Linked DNA regions of Homo sapiens. The protein of the gene in region 2 interacts with the protein of the main gene of each other region in a biochemical or structural test. Each region holds a gene or a part of one and is shown on either strand. Other genes may lie near its edges.

Region 1 (3,813 bases), on a different chromosome or scaffold from region 2:
TAAATAGAAATTTCAGGAGAGCCAATTTCCATTGATTATAAAGACTTAGGTTTGTAGCAACTAGAGCTGCCCTCTGGGAAAAGGGTGATTTTATCATCAACGACTGCTCAAACTGGGTTTGGAGAACAACCCAGTATGGCTTTTACAGAGCAGAGTTGTGCCTTAAGGGGAAGATGCATGGTTTCTAAACCCCTTTAAACTCTGAGATTGCATGGGGGAAGGCAGCTGCAGATCATGCTGCCTGAAAAGAGAGGATCTGATTTCAGGCCCCAGAAATCATGATTTTCCTAGTTCTTAGTTTCCGCATCTCTAATGTGAGTTTTTTCTAAGGTTTCTAGTCTGAGCTTCGAGACTGAGTTTCTGCTCATGCTTACTCACCACTGAGTGTGAGGCTTTTAATGACCTGGGCCAGTGACTGGCTGCAGCCTAGGGTAGCCCCAAACCCACGCCTTCTCCAATTAAGGGACTCTTCCGGACAGAGCTCAGAGCAAAGGGTAGTAGCAGGCTTTGAGCTGCAGGGAGATACTGTCATATCCTAGACTGAAGGAAGTTAAGCTGAGCAGAAAAATGCTCTGAAGAATGACTCAGAAGAGGCTCTTGTGAGGAAGCTTCCTTGGAGTACGCGTGTTTGGATTTGGGGAGGTGAAGGTCGTCCCCATGCCAGGCTGGCCGGGGCTGTTTGTGACATCGTGGAGCTGAGTGTTCAGAGCATGGGCTTCAGGGCAGGTAGTCGTGGGTTCGAATTTTGGTTCTGCAGCTCAGTAGCTGTGTGACCTTAGCCAGTTATTCCACTTCTCTGAGCCTCGGTGTCTCCATTGTTAGTGATGGAGATGGATTTAGTTTGGAACCTTGCCACCTCCCAGGGTGGTTGTGAGGGTCCAGTGAGGTCACATGTGAGAACACCAGACTAAGATGTTAGTGTCAGTTCCAATATTCAGGGCCGTGGGGCAGGGGGAAGGGCGATGAGGAGACACAGAAGTGTGTGGGCAGCAGAGACTGTGGAAGTGTGGAGGCATGGGGAGGCCTGAGGGCTCTGCTTCGAGAGTCAGAGGATGGTGGCCTCCGAGTGAGGACTGGGTTAAGGGAAGGGGTGGGTGTGTCTGGGACTTAGGGAGAATGCTGTTGTGTGGAGGTAGAGTAAAGACAGCAGGAGGGAGAGAAAGGGTGTGCGAGGGCCAGAGGGGACTGTGGAGGGGGTGGGCACACACCCTGTGCGGGGCTGGGGGTGTGAGATGGCTAATGTGGTTGGGGTCAGCGTGGGCAGGGCTGTGGGCATCGTTGTGTGGGTGGGAGGCCCAGAAGTGTCGCCCTCCCCATCCTGAGGGACTGGTTCCTCGCTGGGAGGAGGAGGATGTAGCCAGAACCTCTGGGAAAACAATGAGTAACAGGCACCAGAGGCAGCCAGGTCCAGATGTGCTGCCTACCTAGGACCACAGGCTGTGCTGGCTGGTCCCTCCCCTGCCCTTCCTCAGGCCTTGCCCCTCCACTTTGCCCCTGTGGGTGGAGTGGCACTTTCCCCCACCCTGGAGGCCCAGGGAAGGAAAGCTGCCTTTATGAGCCTGAAGCATCTTGGAGGTCTCCTGGGGCCAGCAATGGTGGGCTCTTTGCCAAAAGTCTCAGGCCTTCCTCCCCCCATCCTGTGCTCTCCTGCCCCAAGAGAGGAGGCTCTGGTGGGCCGGGAGGGCGGGGCACACGCTGCACCTTGCTGACTTGTTGTACAGTAGGTCCTACTCTGCGTGGCTGCACCTGGAAGCACGTTCTTTCAGCTGCACAGGTGTCTTTCCCTTTTGGCCTTTATGAAATGCCTGCTGTGCACACTCCATATATTTGCACAGAGGCACAGGTGGGACGGAAAGAGTGGGGAAAGCAGACACAACCTGCTCGCTTCCTGCTGTGTTGCTTCCTGTCTGGGACCTTCCATTCCTCCTCTGTGAGATGAGAAACAGCCGCCCTTGCCCTAGAGAGTGGGTGAACAAAGCCCTGGGTACCAGGTCTGGAGGCTCAGTGGGTGCTGGGTCCTGGATCCTGCGATGGGGCTGCCTGTTCCAGAAAACCCGCTCCCTGCTCCCACCTCAAAGGTGAGAAAGGGAATCTATTTTTTTAAAAAGTCAAACTTAAGAAAAATTACAAGAATACAATGAACTCCCACATACCCCTCACCTAGATTCACGAATTAGTAACATTTGCCTTATTTACTCTAACTCTAATCTCTATAGTTATTGTCATAATTATTGCTGATTCAGGTAGGAGTAAGCTGCAGACATCACAGTCCTTTTCCCCTAAATATCCCAGCGGGAATTAACTAAGAATAAGGATATTATCATACATAACCAAAGCGTGAGTTCCACCTTTAGAAACTTTTTTTTTTTTTTTTTTTTTGAGATAGGGTCTTGCTCTTGTCACCCAGGCTGGAGTGCAGTGGCGCCATCTCAGCTCACTGCAACCTCCGCCTCCCAGGTTCAAGTGATTCTTCTACCTCAGCCTCCCGAGTAGCTGGGACTACAGGTGCCCACAACCATGCCCGGCTAATTTTTGTATTTTTAGTAGAGACGGGGTTTCACCACGTTGGCCAGGTTTGTCTCAAACTGCTGACCTCTGGTGATCCGCCAGCCTCAACCTCCCAAAGTGCTGGGATTACAGGCGTGAGCCATCACTCCCGGCCTAGAAACTTTCACATTGATGGAATCATGTATTTGTTTCCCAGACCTGCCATAACAAAGTACCACAGACTGGGTGGCTTAAACGACAGAGATTTATTTTCTCACAGTTCTGGAGGCTAGACGTCTCAGATCAAGGTGCCGACAGGTTTGGTTCTTCTGAAGGCCCTTTCCTTGGCCTGCAGATGGCCATCTTCTCACTGTGTCCTGGCTTGGTCTTTCCTCTGTGTGAGTCCGGATTTTCTCATCTCATAAAGATACCAGTAAGATTAGATTAGGGCCTGCCCTAAAGATCTTATTTTAACTTAATTACCTCTTTAAAGACATTATCTTCAAATATGATTACATTCTCAGGTCCTGGTGGTTAGAACTTCAGCATATGAATGGGGGAGAGAGAACAATTCAGTCCATAACAAATACTATGATCTAACAGGCAGTCCACACTCAGGCATGCTGGTTGTCCTGGGGATGTTCTTTGTGGCATCCCCCCACATTGACCCACAATCCAGCTTTGTTATGTCTCCTCAGTGTCTTGCCTGGAACAGTTTCTCAGCCTTGGTGGAGAAAGGGAACCTTCACGTTGCAGGGAAGCAAAGGTGCTCAGCAGGAATGGGGGTTCAGAAGCGCAGGCTGCCCCAGGACAGGGAAGCTGTTGAAGGGTTTGCTCTAGTCCATGAAGTTGCCTTTCCTGGCTTTTTCTTTGATGTCAAAAGCACCAGGAGGTGAGCTTAGATCTCAGGAAGCGCACCAAGAATCCGTGCATGAGTCCCCTGCGGTGTGTCTGACTCCATCACCATGGCGCCTGTTCGTTGCTGGGCTGGTTGGCCTGCAGAGCCCTGAGTGGTCTCATGGAGGGTGCCCTTCTGAGTGACCTTGAGCATGTGACTTCTATTCCTACCAATTTCAGTGTCCTAATGTATAGAACAGCCAGTGACACAAATTATAGTAGTAAACATTTTTTGAGCATTCTTGTCATGCAAATCAATAAAAAATCTGAGCCACCCAGAAAGTCCATGAGGCCCTAAGTCATTCAACTTAGCGTTTACTGTGCATTGGCTCACTTCATCTTCTCAGTAACCCTAGGTGCTGTCATTGTCCCCATTTTATGAATGTGGAGACTGAGCGATTTATCTAAAGTCACAGACTTGCAAGGGGC
Region 2 (3,813 bases):
AGAAAAAAAATTTCCCACCCCATCCTCTGGTTTTTCTGTGTATACTGTTTATTTTTCCAAAGGGATTTGAGGAGTTTGTGGACAGTAAAGTGTTTGTTGTTTTTGTGAGACAGGGTCTTGCTCTGTCACCCTGGCTGGAGTGTAGTGGTGCGATCACTGTTCACTGCAACCTCTACTTCCCGGGCTCAGGTGATCTTCCTGCCTCAGCCTCCGGAGGAGCTGGGACTACAGCTGTGTGCGACCATGCCTGGCTAGTTTTTCGTATTTTTTGTAGAGATGAATGTTCACAGTGTTGCCCAGGCTGTTCTTGAACTCCTGGGCTCAAGCAATCTGCCTGCCTCAGCCTTCCAGAGTGTTGGGATTACAGGTGTGAGCCCCTGCTCCCAGCCCATAAAATGTATTGTTAATGTGAATTAAATTTTTGGAACTATTTTGGAAGAGTATTGCATGATTTATACCTAGAGGTTTTTTTTTTACAAAGTTTAATTCAAACTTAAAAAAAATTTCCTACTAGAGGAAACATAAAAATACAAATATAAAAGTATTGAAAATTTTCAGAGCATCACATTACTTAGAGGTTTAACGTATTTTCGGCATTGTTTTCAAATATAGGTAATTAGCTGTAGTGCATAATTCAGAGTTTAAAAACAAACTGAGGCCGGGGGCAGTGGCTAACGCTTGTAATCCCAGCACTTTGGGAGGCTGAGGAGGCAGATCACGAGGTCAGGAAATCGAGACCATCCTGGCCAACATGGTGAAACCCCGTCTCTAATAAAATACAAAAATTAGCTGGGTGTGGTGGCACGTGCCTGTAATCCCAGCTACTCAGGAGGCTGAGGCAGGAGAATCGCTTGAACCCGGGAGGCAGAGGTTGCAGTGAGCCGAGATTGTGCCAGTGCACTCCAGCCTGGGTGACAGAGCGAGACTCCGTCTCAAAAAAAAAAAAAAAAAAAAAACCGAAAAACAAACAAAATAACTGGATATCTTAGCCTGCTTCCTGTCTCCAAGGTACTGCTTTATGAAATGCTGAGCCTTCTTACCACTGCTATCCAGTTCTTTGTTACATTTGAACCTTGTGTTACTCTAGGTCCCCTGTTAAAATGGAAAGAAGATGCCTCAGAAGTAAATTCTGTGTGGCATTGTTGGCTGCCTTCATTAGTTCCTTCAGCCTGTTTTGTGGGCTGTTGAACATTACACTACAACCTGCCAGTGGTGTGGGAATTTTGCTCATTTTTATTGCTGAGAGCCTTGACTGAGACTTCACAAAAACAACTCCAATGTTACTGTAGTTAATGGCATTTTCCAGGGGTTGCTTTCATGTGAAGCTGATGCTTTTAAGGTGACAGTGATTTGGGCCTAGTCCAGCATTGATTGGTTTTTTCACCTCCATGAACTGCGTATTTGGAAAATAATGTGTGTCTCTCTAAGAGTTTTTTTGTTTGTTTGTTTTTTGTTTTTGAGACGCTGTCTCCCTCTGTTGCCAGGCTGGAGCGCAGTCGCGCCATCTCGGCTCACTGCAACCTCCACCTCCTAGGTTCAAGCGATTCTTCAGCTTCAGCCTCCCGAGTAGCTGGGACTACAGGTGCGCACCACCATGACCAGCTAATTTTTGTATTTTTTTTAGTACAGACAGGGTTTCATTATGTTGGCCAGGATGGTCTCATCTCCTGACCTTGTGATCCGCCTGCCTGGGCCTCCCAAAGTGCTGGGATTACGGGCATGAGCCACCGCGCCCAGCCAATAGAGTTCTAAAAGTTTTGTCTTTTATACATGTCAGTCTTCTAAGTCCATTTCTAAAAAATTGTTCAGAGATTGAATGTTTGTATAGCAAATACAATTTCCCATTGATTTTCGTTAAATTTGGTATTTTTTTCACAGAAAAAAATGGTATCATAAAACTTGTTTTTTAGAATCCTAGCATTTACCTCAGAAAAGTCTGCCTCTGCAGAAAGTGCAAATCTGTATGCATTTAATTCTGTACAATCATAAAACTTTAAAATATTAGTGTTTTGGAGGGGTCATGGGCATTATCTTGCTTCATTCATGTACATCGTTTGACAGCTAAGGAAACCAAGGCCTGAAGAGATCTAAGATCTTGGTACTGAAAGTGTGATTTCTGGACCAACAGTATTAGCATCACCTGGGAACTTGATAGACGTTAGAATCTTGACTTCATCTCAGTCCTACGGTCCTACTGAATTAGAATCTTAGAATCTACTTTTTCTTTTTCTTTTTTTTTTTTTTTGGAGACGGAGTCTCACTCTGTCACCCAGGCTAGAGTGCAGTGGCACGATCTTGGCTCACTGCAAGCTCCGCCTCCTGGGTTCACGCCATTCTCTTGCCTCAGCCTCCTGAGTAGCTGGGACTACAGCTGCTGCCACCGCGCCTGGCTAATTTTTTGTGTTTTTAGTAGAGACGGGGTTTCACCGTGTTAGCCAGGATGGTCTCGATTTCCTGACCTTGTGATCCGCCCGCCTCGGATCCGCCCGCCCGCCCAGCACTCCCAAAGTGCTGGGATTACAGGTATGAGCCACCGCGCCCGGCCTTCTTTTTTTGTAAATAAGAGGCACAATCTTGCCCTGTTGCCCAGTTTGGATTGGAGTGTAGTGGTGTGATCATAACGCACTGCCACCTGGAACTCCTGGACTCAAGTAATCCTCTCACCTCAGTAGCTGGGACTACAGGCATGTGCCATCATACACTGCCTTTTTTTTTTTTTTTTTTTTTTTTAAGAATTGGAGTCTCACTGTGTTGCCCATGCTCGTCTCAAACTCCTGGCCTCCTAACGTGCTGGGAAGAACCTGCATTTTAACAAGATTTTCAAGTCATTCAGTGCGCATTCAGTTTGAGAAGCACTGCTAAACGATGCATACACCTGGGCAACATAGTGAGACCCTGTCTCTACAAAATAAAATAAAATTAGCCTGTTGTAGTGGTGCACACCTTTAGTCCCAGCTACTTATGAGGCTGAGATGAGAGGATTGCTTGAGCCCAGGAGGTTGAGGCTGCAGTGAGCCGTGATCGCACCGCAGCGTTCCAGCCTGGGCAACAGCAAGAGACCCTGTCTCAAAAAATACGTAAATAAATAAAAATTAAAATGATGCATACATGGTTGCTCAGCTCGTTAGTCTTCTGAGTTGCTCTTTCCACTGGCCCTTCTGAAAAAAGTCAAATGGAAAATTTGGAAGCTAATCACTGCCCAGTTGAACTTTCTATGATGATAGAAGTGTTCTGTGCTATCCAGTGAGGTAGCCATTGGCCATGTGTGACTGTTGAATACTTGACGAGCAAGTAGTGCACTTGAGGAATTGAATTTTTTATTTAATTTTAATTCCTTTAAATAGTTGGGGCTGGGCGCCGTGGCTCACGCCTGTAATGCCAGCACTTTGGGAGGCTGAGGCGGGCGGATCACGAGGTCAGGAGATCGAGACCATCCTAGCTAACATGGTGAAACCCTGTCTCTACTAAAAATACAAAAAATTAGCCGGGTGGCGGGCGCCTGTAGTCCCAGCTGCTTGGGAGGCTGAGGCAGGAGAATGGCATGAACCCAGGAGGCGGAGCTTGCAGTGAGCGCCACTGCACTCCAGTCTGGGTGACAGAGCAAGACTACGTCTCAAAAAAAAATAAAAATAGTTGGATGTAGCTGGTGGTTACATGGACAGCACAGATCTAGATGATCTTTGCCCACTCTAAAATCTAAGCTGTAATTTAATAACTGGTTAGACTCAGTTTAATAATTGTCCTTTCTTAATGTACAAATTGGAGAGAGAGTATGTTGACTTAGTTTTTCTAATATGCCCAGATATTATTTCA

Evidence for each region.
Region 1: of the proteins of MAPK6 (region 2) and USP20, one has a biochemical effect on the other in vitro, tested with the Homo sapiens proteins (one study listed by BioGRID).

The regions. Positions count from the first base shown.
Region 1 is NC_000009.12:129,838,409-129,842,221, forward strand, and holds part of USP20 (ubiquitin carboxyl-terminal hydrolase 20), read left to right. Parts: intron 1-3,813.
Region 2 is NC_000015.10:52,022,173-52,025,985, forward strand, and holds part of MAPK6 (mitogen-activated protein kinase 6), read left to right. Parts: intron 1-3,813. UniProt on the Homo sapiens protein: Atypical MAPK protein. Phosphorylates microtubule-associated protein 2 (MAP2) and MAPKAPK5.